Homo sapiens: one gene and its partners. The protein of the gene in region 1 interacts with the protein of each later gene in a pairwise test. Each region holds a gene or a part of one and is shown in the gene's direction. Other genes may lie near its edges.

The links.
Region 2: the proteins of BOD1 (region 1) and GPC5 interact in binary tests that used the Homo sapiens proteins (3 or more experiments, as listed by UniProt).
Region 3: the proteins of BOD1 (region 1) and WDTC1 interact in binary tests that used the Homo sapiens proteins (3 or more experiments, as listed by UniProt).
Region 4: the proteins of BOD1 (region 1) and CTSB interact in binary tests that used the Homo sapiens proteins (3 or more experiments, as listed by UniProt).

Annotation. Positions count from the first base shown.
Region 1 is NC_000005.10:173,605,985-173,611,148, reverse strand, and holds the end of BOD1 (biorientation of chromosomes in cell division protein 1), read left to right. Parts: intron 1-1,478; exon of another isoform or gene 1,479-1,571; intron 1,572-1,714; coding exon 1,715-1,910; 3' UTR 1,911-1,911; intron 1,912-2,856; coding exon of another isoform or gene 2,857-2,884; 3' UTR 2,885-4,004; downstream 4,005-5,164. UniProt on the Homo sapiens protein: Required for proper chromosome biorientation through the detection or correction of syntelic attachments in mitotic spindles.
Region 2 is NC_000013.11:92,863,536-92,868,316, forward strand, and holds the end of GPC5 (glypican-5 precursor), read left to right. Parts: intron 1-2,746; coding exon 2,747-2,904; 3' UTR 2,905-3,702; downstream 3,703-4,781. UniProt on the Homo sapiens protein: Cell surface proteoglycan that bears heparan sulfate.
Region 3 is NC_000001.11:27,285,596-27,290,759, forward strand, and holds part of WDTC1 (WD and tetratricopeptide repeats protein 1), read left to right. Parts: intron 1-2,078; coding exon 2,079-2,266; intron 2,267-5,164. UniProt on the Homo sapiens protein: May function as a substrate receptor for CUL4-DDB1 E3 ubiquitin-protein ligase complex.
Region 4 is NC_000008.11:11,846,901-11,852,064, reverse strand, and holds part of CTSB (cathepsin B isoform 1 preproprotein), read left to right. Parts: intron 1-1,084; coding exon 1,085-1,199; intron 1,200-2,900; coding exon 2,901-3,019; intron 3,020-3,912; coding exon 3,913-3,998; intron 3,999-4,242; coding exon 4,243-4,386; intron 4,387-4,896; coding exon 4,897-5,013; intron 5,014-5,164. UniProt on the Homo sapiens protein: Thiol protease which is believed to participate in intracellular degradation and turnover of proteins. Cleaves matrix extracellular phosphoglycoprotein MEPE. Involved in the solubilization of cross-linked TG/thyroglobulin in the thyroid follicle lumen.

The DNA of each region.
Region 1 (5,164 bases):
GAATCTCCAGGAAAGTGAGCTGCACTCCCTTGGTAGTTTGTTTCCCCTGATCAGGGGTTTTGGTCAGTTGGGGATGCTTTAACAAGGCGCCGTAGACTAGGTGGCTTGTAAACAATGGAAATTTACTTCTCACCATTCTGGAGGCTAGAAGTCCAAGACCAAGATGCCAGCATGGTCAGGTTCAGGGGAAGGCCTTCTTGCAGGCAGCAGACTGCCAACTGCTTGTTCTTCTCATGTGGTGGAAAGAGAGCTCGCTAACTTCCTGGGGTCCCTTTTGTAAGGGCATAAATTGCATTCGCGGAGGCTCTGCCCCCATGACCCGATCGCCTCCCAAAGGCCCTACCTCCAAAGGCCATCACATTAAGGATTAGATTTCAACATAGGAAGTCTGGGGGACACAGGCATTTAGTTGATAATATCAAGCTTTTACATCTGGTAAAGGACCCTGTGAATCCGACTCAGGAAGTGGTTTGGTAAAGTTGGAAAGGTATTGGCTTGTGACTGAGGAGAGGTGGCTTTCCTTTGTTAGCATCCCATAGCCGGATGCTAACTTTGCTGTATTTAACGATGCTCATCACTAAGGGCCGATACTGTCTAATGCCTGGTCTACCTGAAAATGTGCCCTTCAGTGCTCTAGTGGTGGTGTATTTACATCTAGGCTTCCTGTCGATAAGCTGTTAGTTACCATTGAATCCAGGGAGCACTTTACACACTAATCATCTTTCCCAGTTCACAGCCTGTTTCTTATCTTCTTTGTCATGATGTACATTTACTCATGTCTTTCCTTTGCTGTACCCTGACAGACCATTTGCCCACTTGCTGCCCAGCCTATTTTTACCCGAAGGCTTAAATGGCCTCTGAAGTCTCAAGTCTACGGGAAAATAAGTAAAACCTGCCCACATGCTTGTGATGGTATTGGAATATTTCAGTCCTTTGAGAAGAACACTTCACTTTGAACCTTACGGGCTATTTTCCAGACTGTCCAAATATGATTTGTTTCCTCTCACCATCATTTCCAGTACCCTGTCCCAAGTGTTTGAATATAGACATTGATATGCCCTGATTTTTGCTCTACTTCAGAAAGGATCGGGGATGTAATTTAGCCCTCTAGGAGCTTGGAACTAATTTGTTTGTCTATTTCTTGTTTGCTTCCAAGTTGCTTATTATGTGTTACAGGTAGCAACTACAGCTGAAGGCCATGGTGAATTGCTGGTGATGTAAATACTCCCAGCCCTGACTGATCGGCCTTGTTTAAATTTTAAGGATTAGTAAACAGGTTGCTGCTGGAGCTACTTCTGCTTAGGCTATTAGGAGAATAAATGTTGAAGGAAATGGAGTCCAATTCGGGGCTTACTGGCTTTGACAGTACGAGGAAGCTTTTCAGTGCCACACGTGTCAAACTCTTTCTCACCATGCTGTCATTTGTTTGTTGTTTTGGAGCAACTCACTTAGTTTTGTTTTTGATTCTTTTGTACAAGGTTGGGTGATTGTGGGTGAGATTGTGCAGTAGGAATAACAGCTGCTGGTTGAGAATTACCCCTCAAAAGTGAAAATAGCGTGAGCTGTATATGGTAAGTGGATTGACCTCTAAACTCCCTAGAAGGGCTGTAGCTTTGAAGGTGGACATTTATTGGGCTCGCACGTGACACTTATTGGGGCTAAAGATGAATCCCGAAGGAACTAAATAACAGAATGATCTGTTTGTCTCCACAAGGTCAGGGATGTTGGAAGCTGGAGTAGACAGGATTATTTCTCAGGTGGTGGATCCAAAACTTAACCACATCTTCAGGCCACAAATAGAACGAGCAATTCATGAGTTCCTGGCGGCCCAGAAAAAAGCAGCTGTGCCAGCACCCCCTCCAGAGCCCGAAGGCCAGGACCCTCCAGCTCCATCTCAGGACACTTCCTAAGGTCCAGTATCCTATCTTCTGTCCAGGAGTATGCATCTCTGGCTTGTAGATATGTAAAATGGATAGGAATGGGGTAGGCCGTAATTGAGGATCATTCAGGAAGTATTTACTGCAGATGGACTTCACCTACTGTTATAAGTCACTTTTTACTGAGAACTAATTAGTAGCAGTTTCCTGTGTCAGTGACTGATTTTCTGTTCCACCAGCGCTAAACATGTAAGCTATGGATAGATGCTTCATTAGAAATCAGCTGGGATGATTGGTGTGCATAAAGGGGATTCAAATGAAAGTCTTATTTTGCTGAAATGTTTAAATGAGTCTCTCCTGGACATGAGTTAACTTAGGCTTGCAATTTTATTTAAAATCAAGCAGTGCCTTCTGAAGTGATATCCTAAATGGGATTCAGAGTCTGCTTTGAGTGCGACTCGATTTCCATGAATTTAGAAGGAGTTTGTTTACCACTATCAATTACCATGGGATTCTTCTGTTAGGAACACTCCCCCTTTTTAAATTAAATTTGGAATTAAATGTAATTTTAAACAGCTGTAGATGTACAAAAGAATGCTTTTTGCAGGTTTTGGGAGACATTAGTAGGAGCAGCGATGAAGTTAGCAGTGGACTTTTCGCCGTTGTTGGTGACTGCTGGGATATGTTTTATCCCTTCATTCTGATTTGGTGTTCTTTTTAAGATTCTCTGAGATGCCTGTTATAATCAGTAAGTGAGGTGAATTGACTAGGGCGTTTTGAGTGTCAGTGATGAGCAACGCAAGAGCATCAGGACTGTCTTTTTGTTCCTCTATTGAGAGAAGCCCTTGAGTCCAATATGGAGTGTAAAACATTCATTTTAAGTCTTTCTTTTTAATTGTAAATTCCTTTAGGAACATAAAAGTGAATATAGTCTGTTATCAATAAATAACATTTTGATATGATTATCTTTCCTTTTTAGAATACGCCAGACACCTTTTGAAAGCTAATTTTTGGTGAAGAAATGGATTCGGTTACATAAGAGTGCAACTTCAGACTGAAGATAGGCCAAGGTCGTCACTGATCTCAAGATTTCAACCTTGACCATGGGCAGTGACCAGATTGAAAGGGGAGCAAGTTCGGCAGTGGGAGAGTTGACCGTGTCACCCCCTGCATTGTGCTGCCATTTGGCCAGCCTGTCCAAGGGCATGACACCAAGTAGACACTACAGAGAGAGAAACACTACAGCAACCCAGGGTTGTCCTGAAACAGACTTTTATACTTGAACATGGAGACTGCACATGGACTTTAGGGTTTGTGCTGTGGGATAAACGGAAGCTACAGTGAGAACATAGCCAGTCCCAAAGACAATTTCAAAGAAAAATGACAGTAAAGATTAGCTGGGAGTAGTCTTTGACAGTGCTTATTTGATACTGTCTCTCAGAGTTTGCAAACCAGATTGTACAAGTCATTAGCGTCAGATAGCTTTAAAGTTGTGACCTTCTTGTACATGAATCTTCTAGCCAGTTTCCTTTCCTTTGTAACGAAACATGAAATCCTAGAATGTATGAGAAGTTCAGACATTAGGCATAAGGAAACTCGTTTGCAGGCTCTCTGTCCAGGGCTGCTTCCTGTCCTGGAGGGGCCAGTGAGTCTTAGGTATGTTTATTTTATTCTCACATTTGTGTTTTTTTAGAAAAGTGAATGGTCAATAAATGGCTTATCTTTCATAATAAAATTATTTGATACTTTTACTCCGAAGCTTCAGCTGAAGCTTAAACCTCAGGTCTGTGAAGGGCAACCTTTGTCTTCTGCCTCTGTGCACCACACATGATCTACTGGCAGTGAAGATTGGTACATATAACTTGGAACTATGAAACTAGTAGGTGTAGCTAGTAGTGGGCTGTTTCTCTCCTCCCTGAGCCATTACTGACACTGGTCTTTAGTTGAGGTAGTCCGTGGTATGTGTCAGTGTTTGTCATCCTTGTGTGTGCAGAAGTAGCACCTGGGGATTTAAGGGAAAATGCATATTTCTGATTAAGAAGTTCTGGGGTGGGACCTAAGAGTGAGTGTTTCTGACAAGCTGCCAGGTGATGCTGATGCTGCCAGGCCTCTGAACATACTCTGTATAATAAGCCTTGGATAATATATCCAAGATTATGTCTAACTAAGTCTGTGGTTCTTGGTTGAGTCTACTACTGCATATTGCTGCTAATCTGATCAAAATTTTAACCAATTCAGTTGGTTCCCTGTTAAGACAAAGGCTCCACTTCCACCTTTACCATGAATACCCCTGTATGAGCACTGCAGTGCCATATTCAGCAAGATGCTTGGTAGCATGTGCCCTAATTTTAAAGCAAACTGGCCACACGTTTAAGGCAGGTGCCAGTTATATCTGACGTGTGGTCTGTTCCCACCTGGTAGGTGCAGTTCCATTTCAAGCTGCCTTACAGTTGCAGGAGTCAACAAAGTTCTTAACCCCAGAAAATGGACCCTCCACTCCTCTCTACTACTAGGCAGACAGGGAGTGGCCAGAATTAACCAGTCCTGTGCTTGCAGAAAAGCTGCTCAGACTAACTGGAGTGTCTCCTCTTCAGGACCACATAGCTTTAATGGGAAGTTCCTTCCCTGTGAGGCATCCTTCTGGGAGGGAGATCTCCACACAACTACTTTGTGTTGACCCTCCCAACATCTTGCCTATCCCGCACTGACCTCAACTAGCAACAAAGGGCAAAAGCCCAGAGAAGGCTTCACCCTTTCTGCCCCCAAATGCTCAATTAACTGCATTTTATATATGTTTTTGGCAGACAGTTTTTGGTTCATCTCAGTTCTCTTACTTTGCTGCTGCTTTTACTAGAGATGGCTGGACCAGTTGATGAGAAACACCCGAATTTTCACAGAATGTTAAATGTGCCACATACCAAAGAGTTTCTATTTTTTTTTAAATCATTCTGTTATATCCACCAAGATTCACCTAGATTCGAGATTATTTCATTTGAGAACGTGAGATTATAGAAGTAATTGGGCACATCGTTACTGTTGGGATGGACGGTGGACTTTTTGGCTCTTAGCAACACTGAAAGGGAAGACGTGCCTAGATTGGTTTGGGTAACCATATTCAGACTGGCACAGGAAGGCGAGTCAAGACAATAGCACTAGAAGGCTTAGGGGAAAGAAAGCCAGCCTCTTCCTCCTCAGGAACTGGTCACCAGGTAAGCCTCTTTGCATCCTCAACTGAGTTCTCATGTTTTAATTGGGTTCGTGATATAGAATCTAGAAAAATTGTGTAT
Region 2 (4,781 bases), on another chromosome or scaffold:
CAGGCTGGAGTGCAATGGCACAATCTAGGCTCACCGCAACCTCCACCTCCCGAGTTCAAGTGATTCTCCTGCCTCGGCTTCCCAAGTAGCTGGGATTACAGGCACGCACCACCACACCTGGCTAATTTTGTATTTTTAGTAGAGACGGGGTTTCTCCATGTTGGTCAGGCTGGTCTTGTACTCCCGACCTCAGGTGATCTGCCTGCATCAGCCTCCCAAAGTGCTGAGATTACAGGTGTGAGCCACTGCTCTCGGCCTACCATATTTCATAGCACCAATCACCAGGTCTGTCTCTGTGTAATAATATTTCCTTCATTTTTTAATAACGCAATTTTCTTTCCCCATCAGACCATAAACCACTAAGAGCAAAACTATGAATTTATTCACACCTTTGTGTGTTGCTGTTATGCATATAAGAGTATTCAAAAATTACTTTGTTTTTCTTTAATGTATTAATACAATAAATCTCCAAACTAATTTTTTCTTTTATAGGTCTTTATAAGCCTTGGTATAATTTATAAGCTTGGTTAATTAAATTTCTTTATGAAAATAATCATTGCATCAAATATTCATGGAGCTAGAATTTTTGGCATGCTAATGTCTTTTTACAGATGACAAGGTTGTGATTTGATCCATAACTACGGCCATGACTGCCAGGCTCTTGAAAAGATCTTGAATTCTTTTCACATACTTATTACTCAAAGGCCATATTCCTTAGAACTGTTACATTTATTTATTAGTAACACCTTAATGTAAGATGGTAAAATAGCATCTGATTGAAGGCAGAAAAGCTCTCCTGCCATTGTCTGGCTTGCAGGCATAAGATTTAACATCTTTCTACTTACATATTTTCACCCATGATGGCATCCACTAAACCTAAATCAGTGTCTGGCTCATGAATGAACAAAATATAAGCTCAGAATGGCATAAGAAAACCTTATTCATGGATCCCATCCAAACACAAATTCACAATGCTTAAAAATGAAAAGTAAATCCTGTAATGCTCAAATTTATGTAGTTATCTTAGAAAAAAAAAATATTTTTAATTGCCTGGAGTCCTCATAGCTTCTTGTTAAGCTTAACAAGAGGTATAAAGCCATGACTAAAATATTCACACTCCACTCTAGTCCCTATTTAAAAAAAATAAAAAAGGGAATCACTAGTTTATTCATCTTGCCTAATGACACAGAAGGGCAAAACAAGCACCCAAACAATGAATAATAATGTAAGAGCTCAGACTGTAAAATCAATATGTCAGATCAGCAGAGCTTTGCTTCGTTTTAGTGCTCTCATGTCTGAATGCAGCACAGCTTATCTTCTGAATTATATATATATATATTGGCCTAATTACATAAATATTGACTTTTCCTTATATGAAGTTTATTCTTTCAATCTCTCTGTAATTACCATGTCAATATTTGTGGCTGTAGTAACAATGAATTTAAATCTGTTAATTGTGACTGATAGTGGCATGCTATGAGATAATTCAGTCACTTAGTCTCAGAACACTGATGGCACTAGATAATAAGTGATGAATCAGTAATTCCCTAGGTATATCGTACTAAGGTAAACATCTTTAAAAAGCAATTCTTTCAACCCAGTTAATTAAGGGGATAGTTTTTTCCTCAACTTGTCAGGTTTCATAACGTACGGAAGTAATAACCAGAATGCGACTGGATCTTGGTGTATGACTTTGCCCGCTTTTTTTTAAATGAAACACTTTATCCCTAACTTCATTCTCCAGTCCACCCATTAACAACTTCTTTGATCTGTTGATAGATATCTACACCTCCATCCTCACAGCTGTATGTGTGTATGGAAGATATAATTTAACATTTGTTGCTATTATTCTTTGCTATTTGCTATTTCCATAAAGGTCCTAATTCCTGATCTCACTTACATGTGGAATCTAAAATAGCTGAAGTCATAAAAGGGGAAAGTAAAAGGGTGGCTGCCAGGGGATGGATGTGGGGAAGGGAGGGGAGATGGTGGTTGGAGGGTACAAAGTTTAGTTAGACAGGAGGAAGAAATGTTTTAGACCATTGCGCAGCATGGTAACTATCATTCATAATGTACTGTATATTTCCAAATTGCCAAGAAGGTACATTTCAAATGTTCCCTCCACAAGAAAAATGCTAAGGATGTGAGGTGATGGATATGCTAGCCAGCTTGACTTTATCATTCCTCCTGGTATACTTGTCAAAATATCACATTGTACCCCATCAATATCTATAAAATTTGTCAAGTAAAAATGAAAATAAATTTGAAAAAGATCTTAGGCCTACTTTATTCTAATGTAAAATATGATCTGTAGAAATTCTACTTTTAAAAAATATTTTATTCAATTATATCCCCTCAACTGGTTTTATTTTCATGGGAAAAGTTTTCAGTTACTGAAGGTGATAAATCTCTGAAACAAGAACTAATCCCATACCTAGGATATATTAATTAATTAAATGTCTTCACTTACTTACCAGTGGCAGAGAAATGTTCCAAAAATTTTAAAAAGCTAAAAATCTTTTCACTTTGCTCTTATAATATTTGAGAATTTTCACACAAGAGCTTGAACTCTCCAATCTAAGTAGGACAGAAATACCTGTGTCATATTAATTATGTTAGAGTTAGGTGAACATAGAGAATGGTCCCCAAAAACAATGCTGTCCACACTTTGAGTTTAAGAGTTGTTCTAGACGTATTATGGTGAAGTGGTCATGCATCACCTGTGCTTTCTTATTTGCCTCTACAGGGATGCCAGATGATATGAACTTCAGTGATGTAAAGCAAATCCATCAAACAGACACTGGCAGTACTTTAGACACAACAGGAGCAGGATGTGCAGTGGCGACTGAATCTATGACATTCACTCTGATAAGTGTGGTGATGTTACTTCCCGGGATTTGGTAACTGAACTCTTCTGTCCTGACATACCTTACTGAAGTCTCGATTTCTTCTCTCTCTGCATATGCCTGGAATAAGAGATCCTTTTTCAATGTAACAATTATATTTATGAAAAGATATGTTACACTAACTTCTCAGAAGCCAAGCTGAAATATTCATAAAGTCCCTAAAACTCAACGTTTAAATGACACACTTTAAAAATATGTCTTTTTTCAATCTAACTGAAAACCTTCTTAACTTCTAATATATTAAATCTGAAGATGTGAAGGGCACAGAAGTGACTTTGAATAAGAAGAATTTAGTGTATCTGTAATTTTATTATCAATTCCAAGCCCCTTCCTTTCTAAATTAAAAATGTTTTCATTTGAAAGTGTATTTGCCAGACAATGAAAACAGTATGCAGTATTTCTTAAAGTATTGAAATTAGAATATCATGAAATAAATCAAAACATACAATGGCAAGTAGTATGCATGCATATTCAAGAGACTCTTCCATTTTTGCAAGCTGTAGAAGGAAATGTCTGAATGTCTATAAGTTATGGGGTAGATTCTTGAGAAGCATTTCATATAATTTCACTGAAGAACCTTGATAATTTTGACCCACTGTAACTTAGCCACTGATGAACCTTAAAGCTGAGTATTTTATTAACACCTGATTTGTATTCCATTATATTCAAAATGCATCTTTGGTATTGTGCCTCTGCTCCCATCTCTCTCTTTGCCTCATAGATTTAGCTATGTTGGGAAGCACATGCTTGCTCTAGGAATATCTCCAATAAAGCTGTTAACTATTTGGTGGAAAAATTTGAAGAATATTTGTCATTTTCTTCTGGCAAAAATGCTATTTTCACCCATTTTCAAAATATTATGTACTACTTTTTAAAGCCTGATGTTGTACAATTGGCTACCTTTGCATTTCTAAGGTTCCTATGAATATCTGCAGACATGTACAGAAAAGATGATATGCAACACTTTAGCTCTTTCCTATTTGCTCATTAATGGAGCTGCAAACCAACAGTCCCTAATTTCTCAGTTGGGATAAGTTGCCTCAATAGACACTAATAGGATATGTATATGGCTATACTTGAGGAAAAGAGAAGTTAGTTTTTATTAATAAGTATCACATCCAGTCTACAGAGAGAAAATATAATTAATACAAAGTCACAGAATAGAAAAGGGAATTGCTGACCTCAAATAAAAAAAAACAAAAAAAAATTTGAAATGACTTCTGACAAAGACGTAAACAAGACACAGCCAAATGCAAACATTAATAAGGTAAAATCCGTTTCTGCTAGTCAGGAAACAATATATGATCAAACCTTGTTCTCGCTTAAGTTCTCAATTAACAAAATGATCTAAGGATGGTTAGTTTAAATCACAACATTTTTAAGCTGCCCAATCAGGTTTTACCCTCCATTCAAACATGCCTCAGAACCGTAAGTGTTATTCTACCCATCAGTTGTGGATGCCATTTTCCTAGGCTTCCATTCCACACCTAACATTCCCTGATCCATTCAGTTAATAACTCATTTGCACTCACCTTGACACACTCCACAAATTACAAACTTAACCCTATTTTGAAAATTTTTTACTTCAACCTCAGCTCTTCATTTAAATCAGTCTTGGAAAAAAGTGATACTAAGGCACTCATTTGCTGCCCTCCAGCCCAAGTCATGATTGGCTTGCTACGGCAAAATTTCAGACCCAACTTAAGAGGAATTTAATTCTAAAGACAAACAAACTGAAGAGCATGCTTTAGCAGTCTAAGATATATGGATAAAATTAATTGACAGAAGATAATTTCAGATATGGCAAGAAATGGACAAAAGCAGAGTGGTAAAGTCAATACAAGAAATGATTATTTTTTTTTAAACTAAGTTTTA
Region 3 (5,164 bases), on another chromosome or scaffold:
TACATACTTTCTTTCTTGTTTCTTTTCTTTTTTTTTTTTTGAGACAGAGTCTCGCTCTTGTTGCCCAGGCTGGAGTACAGTGGCAAGATCTCGGCTCACCGCTGCCTCAGCCTCCCGAGTAGCTGGGACTACAGGCATACACCACCACACCCGGCTAATTTTTTGTATTTTTAGTAGAGACAGGGTTTCTCCATGTTGGTAAGGCTGATCTTGAATTCCCGACCTCAGGTGATCCACCTGCCTCCGCCTCCCAAAGTGCTGGGATTACAGGTGCGAGCCACAGCGCCCAGCCCAGAACTGCATACTTTCTTTTTTCATTATTTGAAGCTATGGTTGCAGCTGTTTTTTTCTTATCAGATGTCATCTGGAGTATTTTGTTCTTGCCTTTATCAGGATGGTGGTTTTTTTTTTTTTTTTTTTTTTTGAGATGGAGTCTTGTTTGCTCTGTCACCCATGCTGGAGTGCAGTGATGCCATCTCAGCTCACTGCAACCTCCACCTCCCGGCTTCAAGTGATTCTCCTGCTTCAACCTTCCGAGCAGCTGGGATTACAGGTGCACACCACCACATCCGGCTAATTTTTTTTGTAGTAAAGACGGGGTTTCACCATGTTGGCCAGGGTGGTCTCAAACTCCTGACCTCAGGTAATCCGCCTACCTCGGCCCCCCAAAGTGTTGGGATTACAGGTGTGAGCCACGGCACCTGGCCGGTTTTTTTTGTTTTTTTTTTTAATAAATACTGCATAGAGATGTATCCTCTTGATGCTCAGCCCTTCCCTATTGTCCAACATTTGAGCTGTTTCCAATATTTGCTATTATAAGAGGCATCCAAGCATTTCTGACCAGGTCCCTTTTTTCTTTTTGGATTATTTCCTTTTTTTTTTTTTTTTTTTTGAGATGGAGTCTCGCTCTGTTGCCCAGGCTGGAGTGCAGTGGCGTGATCTCAGCTCACTGCAAGCTCTGCCTCCTGGGTTCACACCATCCTCCTGCCTCAGCCTCCCGAGTAGCTGGGACTACAGGCGCACGCCCGGCTAATTTTTTTATATTTTTAGTAGAGACGGGGTTTCACCGTGTTAGCCAGGATGGTCTGGATCTCCTGACCTTGTGATCTGCCCGCCTCAGCCTCCCAAAGTGCTGGGATTATAGGCATGAGCCACCACGCCTGGCCTGGATTATTTCTTGGAAGTGGAAGTTTTGAGTCAAAAACTAGAAATTGTTTTTAATCTTTGTTACTATTACCAGATTGTTTTTCAGAAGCAGTCAAACTAATTTAAAACACTCACTCCCAACAGGGCATTCTGGCTCATGCCTACAATCCCAGCACTTTGGGAGGCCAAGGCAGGTGGATCACCTGAGGTCAGGAGTTCGAGACCAGCCTGGCCAACATGGTGAAACCCTGTCTCTACTAAAAATACAAAAATTAGCTGGGCGTGGTGGTGCACACCTGTAATCCCAGCTACTCAGGAGGCTGACACAGGAGAATCGCTTGAACCCGGGAGGTGGAAGTTGCAGTGAGCCGAGATTGCACCACTGCACTCCAGCCTGGGTGACAGAGCGAGACGCTGTCTCAAAAAAAAAAAACAAAAAAAACCCACACACACCCATTCCCTTAAACACTCAAAGTCTTTTTCACTTCAGGACTAATTTATTACTTAATCTCTAGGTTACTAAGTAGTCATAATGAGGCAAGTAGGGCATGTGGGAGTCAGACAGACTTGGGCTTGAACACAATCTTGCTGTATATTACTGCTGAACCTCAAGGGTTTGTTTTGTTTTTTGTTGTTGTTGTTGTTTTTGAGACAGTCTCGCTCTGTTGCCCAGGCTGGAGTGCAGTGGCACAATCTCGGCTCACTGCAGCCTCTGGCTTCCTGCAGCCTCTGCCTCCTGGGTTCAAGGGATTTTCCTGCCTCAGCCTGCTGAGCAGCTGGGATTACAGGCATGAGCCACCGCGCCCAGCCTGCATGGGCTCATTCTCTTATCTGACATGGAGAGAGAAAAGGGTGCAGACATCCAGGCTAGCCTCCTTCCGTGGCCATTTCTACTCTTACCACCCACCCCTTCCTCCATTTCTCCTATATAGTTCCTGCCTCACGCTGGGGACCGCATCTTGATCACGGGGGCAGCCGACTCTAAGGTGCATGTGCACGACCTGACAGTAAAGGAGACCATCCACATGTTTGGAGACCACACAAACCGGGTGAAGCGCATCGCCACAGCGCCCATGTGGCCCAACACATTCTGGAGTGCTGCTGAGGATGGGCTTATCCGGTAAGAGTCTGGGGCATCTAGTGGAGCCTGTCGCTCCCCCATCCCATCATCCTATAGTGTTTCCTTCTACAGACCTAGCTCTTTCCCTCCAGCAGAGGTCCAACCTCCTTTGTCTGCCCAGGGCAGTTGTCTGTGTACAAACTCCACTGGGAACATTTGCTTACTCCGCCCTCACCTTCCTCCCTCTTTGCCCTCCTTTGTACTACCTCTAGGCCCACAAGCTTTTTCTCACCACCTCAGGTGTCCAGGGTCTCTACTGCCTCTGGGCATTCACGTTACTCTTTCCTCTACTTGAGATTCTCTGTCCCCAGCTCTTCCCATGTCGGACTCTTTCTTATCCTAAGGAGATCAGCTTCAGTTACCTCTTCAGAAGCACCTTCTCTGACCATCCTGTCTAAAGTAGACAGACGTTATGCTTGTTTTAACAATTATATCCTCTGTAACTCTAATTGCCACCTGTAGTTATTTTTATTAATTAATTAATTTTTATTTATTTATTTTTTTTTTTATTGATCATTCTTGGGTGTTTCTCGCAGAGGGGGATTTGGCAGGGTCATATGACAATAGTGGAGGGAAGGTCAGCAGATTAACAAGTGAACAAAGGTCTCTGGTTTTCCTAGGCAGAGGACCCTGCGGCCCTCTGCAGTGTTTGTGTCCCTGGGTACTTGAGATTAGGGAGTGGTGATGACTCTTAATGAGCATGCTGCCTTCAAGCATCTGTTTAACAAAGCACATCTTGCACCGCCCTTAATCCATTTAACCCTGAGTGGACACAGCACATGTTTCAGAGAGCACAGGGTTGGGGGTAAGGTCACAGATCAACAGGATCCCAAGGCAGAAGAATTTTTCTTAGTACAGAACAAAATGAAAAGTCTCCCATGTCTACTTCTTTCTACACAGACACGGCAACCATCCGATTTCTCAATCTTTTCCCCACCTTTCCCCCCTTTCTATTCCACAAAACCGCCATTGTCATCCTGGCCCGTTCTCAATGAGCTGTTGGGTACACCTCCCAGACGGGGTGGTGGCCAGGCAGAGGGGCTCCTCACTTCCCAGTAGGGGTGGCCGGGCAGAGGCACCCCTCACCTCCCGGACGGGGCGGCTGGCCGGGCGGGGGGCTGACCCCCCCCCCACCTCCCTCCCGGACGGGGCGGCTGGCTGGGCGGGGGGCTGACCCCCCCACCTCCCTCCCGGACGGGGCGGCTGGCCGGGCAGGGGGCTGACCCCCCCACCTCCCTCCTGGACGGGGCGGCTGGCTGGGCAGAGGGGCTCCTCACTTCCCAGTAGGGGCGGCCGGGCAGAGGCGCCCCTCACCTCCCGGACGGGGCGGCTGGCCGGGCAGAGGGGCTCCTCACTTCCCAGACGGGGTGGTTGCCGGGCGGAGAGGCTCCTCACTTCTCAGACGGGGCGGCTGCCGGGCAGAGGGGCTCCTCAGTTCTCAGACGGGGTGGTTGCCAGGCAGAGGGTCTCCTCACTTCTCAGACGGGGCGGCTGGGCAGAGACGCTCTTCACCTCCCAGACGGGGTCGCGGCCGGGCAGAGGCGCTCCTCACATCTCAGACGATGGGCGGCCGGGCAGAGACGCTCCTCACTTCCTAGATGGGATGGCGGCCGGGCAGAGACGCTCCTCACTTTCCAGACTGGGCAGCCAGGCAGAGGGGCTCCTCACATCCCAGACGATGGGCGGCCAGGCAGAGACGCTCCTCACTTCCCAGACGGGATGGCGGCCAGGCAGAGGCTGCAATCTCGGCACTTTGGGAGGCCAAGGCAGGCGGCTGGGAGGTGGAGGTTGTAGCAAGCCGAGATCACGCCACTGCACTCCAGCCTGGGCACCATTGAGCACTGAGTGAACGAGACTCCGTCTGCAATCCCGGCACCTCGGGAGGCCGAGGCTGGCGGATCACTCGCGGTTAGGAGCTGGAGACCGGCCCGGCCAACACAGCGAAACCCCGTCTCCACCAAAAAAATACGAAAACCAGTCAGGCGTGGCGGCACGCGCCTGCAATCGCAGGCACTCGGCAGGCTGAGGCAGGAGAATCAGGCAGGGAGATTGCAGTGAGCCGAGATGGCAGCAGTACAGTCCAGCTTCGGCTCGGCATCAGAGAGAGACCGTGGAAAGAGAGGGAGAGGGAGACCGTGGAAAGAGAGGGAGAGGGAGACCGTGGGGAGAGGGAGAGGGAGACCGTGGGGAGGGGGAGGGGGAGAGGGAGAGGGAGCTAATTAATTTATTTTCTGAGACAGGGTCTCACTCCATTCTATTGCCGAGGTTGGAGTGCAGTGGCGTGATCATGGCTCACTGCAGCCTTGACTTCCTGGGCTCAGGCGATTCTCCCACCTCAGCCTCCTGAATACCTGGGACTACAGACACGCTCCACCATGCTTGGCTAATTTTTCTATTTTTTTTGTAGAGATGGGGTTTCTCTGTGTTGCCCAGGCAGGTCTCAAACTCCTGGGCTCAAGTGATCCTCCCACCTCGGCCTCCCACAGTGCTATGATTGCTGGTGTGAGCTACCACACCTGGCCTTATTTTATTTTTACTTATTGGTTTACTTTTTTGTCTGTATCCTCACTAAATAGTAAAAGTAAACTCTCTTAGAGCAACTCCATGTCTGTCTTGTTCTTGGTTGTATCCCTAGAGCCCAGCACAGCGCCTGGCACATAGAGCCGCTTGATACATTTCTCTTGAACAGTTGGTCAGTGGCTATATACCTGGGAGGGGGCAAGCCACCCGGAAATGGTAAAATGGACTGTCCCCTTTTCCAGTGCCCTGCATTGTTACACATTTGCCTCTACTTCCCTTCATTCTAAAATGGTGTCGTTGCCCTTCTTTAACTCCTTTCTTCAGCTGTGACCTTAGAACTTCTTTCTTATCTCCCCAGCCTGCTTTAATCTGTCTCCC
Region 4 (5,164 bases), on another chromosome or scaffold:
GTCTCAGCCGCAGATGTGACAGACAAGGTCTGGGTCCCCACTATGTGGGCAGACTCAATCTTGAGTAATTTAAGGGAAATCTAAGAAAAGCCAGATGAGGCCAAGTATGGTGGCTCACGCCTGTAATCCCAGCACTTTGGGATGCCAAGGCAAGCGGATCACCTGAGGTCAGGAGTTCGAGACCAGTCTGACCAACATGATGAAACCCCGTCTCTACTAAAAATAAAAAACTTTGCCAGGCGTGGTGGCGGGCGCCTGTAATCCCAGCTACTCGGGAGGCTGAGGCTAGAGAATCGCATGAACCCGGGAGGCAGAGGTTGCGGTGAGCTGAGATGATGCCACTTCCCACGTGAGGATGGGGTAGTTAAGTTGCACGACACTGCCTTCTGCACAATGGGGATGATATGAGAAATGATGAGAGGATCCTGGGCAGAGGTTGAGGCAGGAGAGCAGGGCAAGAAACACTATCTGGACTGAATAAACTTATTTAAAAATGAGTTTATAATTTGTGGATAAATTCATCTTAAAAAATCCATTACATAAGCCTAGAAAGAAGCGTACAATATCGCAAGTCAGGCCAGGTGTGGTGGATCATGCCTGTAATCCCAGCACTTTGGGAGGCCAAGGCAGGCAGATCATTTGAAGCCAGGAGTTTAAGACCAGCCTGGCCAACATGGTGAAACCCTGTCTTTACTAAAAATACAAAAATTAGCCGGGTGTGGTGGTGCATGCCTGTAATCCCAGCTACTCAGGAGGCTGAGGCACGAGAATCGATTGAACTCAGGAGGCAGAGGTTGCAGTGGGCAGAGATCTCGCCACTGCACTCCAGCCTGGATGACACAGTGAAATTCTGTCCACTCCCACCCTCCCGTCCCACCCAAAAAAAAAATCAAAAGGTGCATTGAGCAACAGAATTTCCTTTTGTTTTATGAAATTACCAAGGACACCTGTCTGCAGCCTTCTTCGGCATGTCTTGTGCTCATTTCCTTGTTAGGGGAGTGTGGCCCAGCCAAAGTGGCCTTTGCAGGGATTGGGGAGGGAGTTGTGGGATCAGAGCTTGTAATGAAGACCTTCCTTTATCCAGAGTTATGTTTACCGAGGACCTGAAGCTGCCTGCAAGCTTCGATGCACGGGAACAATGGCCACAGTGTCCCACCATCAAAGAGATCAGAGACCAGGGCTCCTGTGGCTCCTGCTGGGTAAGGCCCTGCTGGCTGGCGGGGAAGCGCTGGAGAGAAAGTGGGAGCAACACTGGAGAGTCTTGGGGGATTCGGGGTGGGGACAACTCTGACAAGGCAAGTTATAGAAACTTTCTGAGTCCCAGTTTCCATCAGTACAAAAATCACAATCCCTCTGGCCATGAATGATGGCGAGGATTAGGTGGAGTGGCGGGCAGAGCATCCAGCAGATTGCAAGTCCACGTGTACAGGTGGCGAAGCAGCTCCCTTTCCCTGACATGCTGGCCCGTCCGCAAATACCAGGAGCTCTCACTGCTACTCTGCTTCAAGAAAGCATCCCTTTAGTGTCAGTGAGCTGTCTTAATTTTGTCATTTAATTGTGGTAAAATACACGTAACAGAAATGTAATAATCTTAGCAATCTTCTTTTGTTTTCTTTTTCTTTCTTTTTTTTTTTTTTTTTTTTTTGGAGATGGAGTCTTGCTCTGTCACCCAGGCTGGAGTGCAGTGGTGGGATATTGGCTCACTGCAACCTCTGCCTCCTGGGTTCAAGCAATTCTCCTGCCTCAGTCTCCCCAGTAGCTAAGACTACAGGCATGTGCCACCACGCCCAGCTAATTTTTGTATTTTTAGTAGAGATGGGGTTTTGCCATGTTGGACAGCCTGGTCTCAAACGCCTCACCTGTTGATCTGCCTTCCTCGGCCTCGCAAAATGCTGGGATTACAGGCGTGAGCCACCGTGCCCAGCAACTATTTTCAAGTGTACAGTTCTGTAGCATTAAGTACATTCACAGTGTTGCTCAGCCACCACCACCATCTGTCCCCCGAACTCTTTTTCAGCTCGCAAGACAGAAACTCTGTCCCCATTAACACCAATATTGTAGCCCCTGGTAAGCCCCACTCTACTTTCTGTCTCTATGAATTTGACTCCTAGGGACCTCATACAAGTGGATCACAACAGTATTTATTTTCTGGGTGAGCTGTGTTTTTTGTTAAGAAAAAAACACAGCCAGGTACGGTAGCTCACGCCTGTAATCTCAACACTTTGGGAGGCTGAGGCAGGCGGATCACCTGAGGTCAGGAGTTTGAGACCAACCTGGCCAACATGGTGAAACCCTGTCTCTACTAAAAAGACAAAACTTAGCTGGGCCTGGTGGCAGGCACCTATAATCCCAGCTACTATAGAGGCTGAGGCAGGAGAATTGCTTGAACCCAGGAGGCGTAGGTTGCAGTGAGCTGAGATTGCGCCACTGCATTCCAGCCTGGGCAACAAAAGTGAAACTCCGCCTCCAGGAAAAAAAAAAAAAACCACACACACACATACAAACTAATACTACACATTTTGCAGATTTCAGAAATGAACCCAGTTTCCAGGCAGAGGTTCACGGGGGTGCTTCTCTTGCTTTAAAAGCTGAGTTGGGCAAATCGTTGAGGCAGGAGAGTGGGGCAAGTGGCTCATCACGCCTCTAATCCCAGCACTTTGGGAGGCCAAGGTGGGCAAATCACTTGAACCCGGGAGTTCAAGACCAGTCTGGCCAACGTAGCAAGACCCCATTTCTACCAAAGAAAATAAAAGCTGAGTTTGAGCCCCAGGAGCGTCCCCTGGTGTTGAGAGATCAGTTGCCTACAAGGTCTGAGGTGCCCCTGTGGCCCTTTGAGGGGACTGCTGCAGAGGGCCCAGCCCGGACATGGCAGCCTCACCCGGTGGGGCTCGTTCCTGCAGGCCTTCGGGGCTGTGGAAGCCATCTCTGACCGGATCTGCATCCACACCAATGCGCACGTCAGCGTGGAGGTGTCGGCGGAGGACCTGCTCACATGCTGTGGCAGCATGTGTGGGGACGGGTGAGTCAGGCTGTGCTTCCACAGCGGGTTTAGTGCTGAGAGACCCTGGGCCCCAGCTTCTCAGTGGAGGGGACTTTGAGGACTTCCTGGGACTGCTGCGAGTCAGAAGTGTTTCGGGGAGACTCCGAGAGTCTGGCAGGCAGGGCCTGGCAAGGCTGCTGCTTCCTGGGAGGTGCCTGAACCAAGGCTGGCCCGGCAGAGCTGTCTGAGGGGTGGCATCCCAGCAAAACAGTCAGTTTCAGAAAATGTGGTGGAATGTCTGGCCCCTGGTCTGGTTTGTGTCATCGCATGTTCCTTTTTCCTGCTTGGGGAACCAGTTTGGGGCATTTCCTTATGTGTAGTTAGCGGGGATGGCTCCACCTTAACAACAAGGTGGTGGCACAGAACTTTCTGCTCCAGCTGCCTGCAGCCTCGCCTTGGTTCCGCAGTAGCGGTGTTCACTGGCGGCTGCAGATCCGAAATGCCTGAGGGCTTAAAAAAATGCATGGGCTTCTCCCCTAACTAGTTAAATGGGAATCACTGGCGATTCTCATTTCAGAGAACTGGTGGTGTTTTTAAGTACCTTAGGGAAGTTTAGCGTCTGCTCAGTTGAGAATCAGTGTTCTACCCGGAAGGGCACTCGTAGCCTGGTCTGGTATGGACATGAACAGGAGAGCCTCCTGTCTTCTCCCGGATCTTTGTGGGCAGGGGTGGGGCTGGCGGTTATTCCCTGCAAGCTGTGCTTATCTAGGGAGCGTCCCTTGGAGGGTTTGGGGTCTGGGAGGTCTGCTCGCACCACTTGCTGCAGCTGGGGGTGGGTCCACGAGTGGCCTCGGGCACTTGGGTAGCACACAGTGGTCTGGAGAGCTGGTGGTGCTTCTCTCAGAGGTTTTCATTAGAGGCTGTCTTTTCAGCTGTAATGGTGGCTATCCTGCTGAAGCTTGGAACTTCTGGACAAGAAAAGGCCTGGTTTCTGGTGGCCTCTATGAATCCCATGTAGGTAAGTGTGTCCCCTTGGCCACTTTCTGGCCAGATGGATTGTTTGAGCAATTAACCATCATGGCTTTATTTGCCTTTATAAACTGGGGGTTGAGACAGAGGGGCTGCTGAGAGGTGCTAGCCAGGTGCACAGGCCTCTGGCAGGACCTGCCTGGCGTCCATGCTGCAGGCACGAGGCTTGCCTTGCCCCAGGTCTTCTCCGTGGGGGCTGTAGGTTGACTCCGCTTTCTCCCGCGTCCCATCAGGGTGCAGACCGTACTCCATCCCTCCCTGTGAGCACCACGTCAACGGCTCCCGGCCCCCATGCACGGGGGAGGGAGATACCCCCAAGTGTAGCAAGATCTGTGAGCCTGGCTACAGCCCGACCTACAAACAGGACAAGCACTACGGTAAGGGGCCTGGGGCCTGGCCACGGCGCACGTGGAGGCTGGGGAGCTGCTGCATCCCTCCTCACGCTGCAGCGAAGAGGTCAGGGCTGAGGAGCCTTGGGGTCCCGGAACTCTAGGATAGAGGAGGGGGAGTGATGCCCTCTTGCCAGGAGAAGCAGCACACTCTCCACTTTCTGCCTGTTCCACCCTGAACTCAGCCTCAGCCCTTCCAAACTGGAAGGGACCAAAGCCCTCCTTTTACAAGGGAGTGGCGTGTCCTGGAGTCTTGAGGTATCCTGGCCTCTTCCGGGGCCTCGTGCTCATTGCTCCGTTCTCCCATTTCTGAGCTTCCAGCCCCAGCCCTGTCCTTAGTTCTTCAGGGGAGCCTTCCTTGAGCTCCCCTGGCAGGGCAAGTCCCCTTAGATGCAGTCTTCCCCTGGAGGCCACCAGAAATCAGTGACTGGCTGACCGTGGCGTGCCACGAGGCACGGTCACTGCCCTCCCCAACCCCGAGCTCGGTTCATTTTCCAGGATACAATTCCTACAGCGTCTCCAATAGCGAGAAGGACATCATGGCCGAGATCTACAAAAACGGCCCCGTGGAGGGAGCTTTCTCTGTGTATTCGGACTTCCTGCTCTACAAGTCAGGTGCGTGCTGATGGCTGATGGCAATAGAGGGTGGGGGTCGGGAGGGGAGCCTGGGTGCCAGGATGGTTCATGTTGACCAATAGGGCTGGATTGGGCAGGCAGGTGAGGGGCTGGGGAAGAGGGCTGTGTGGGGCCTTCCATATAGGCTCAC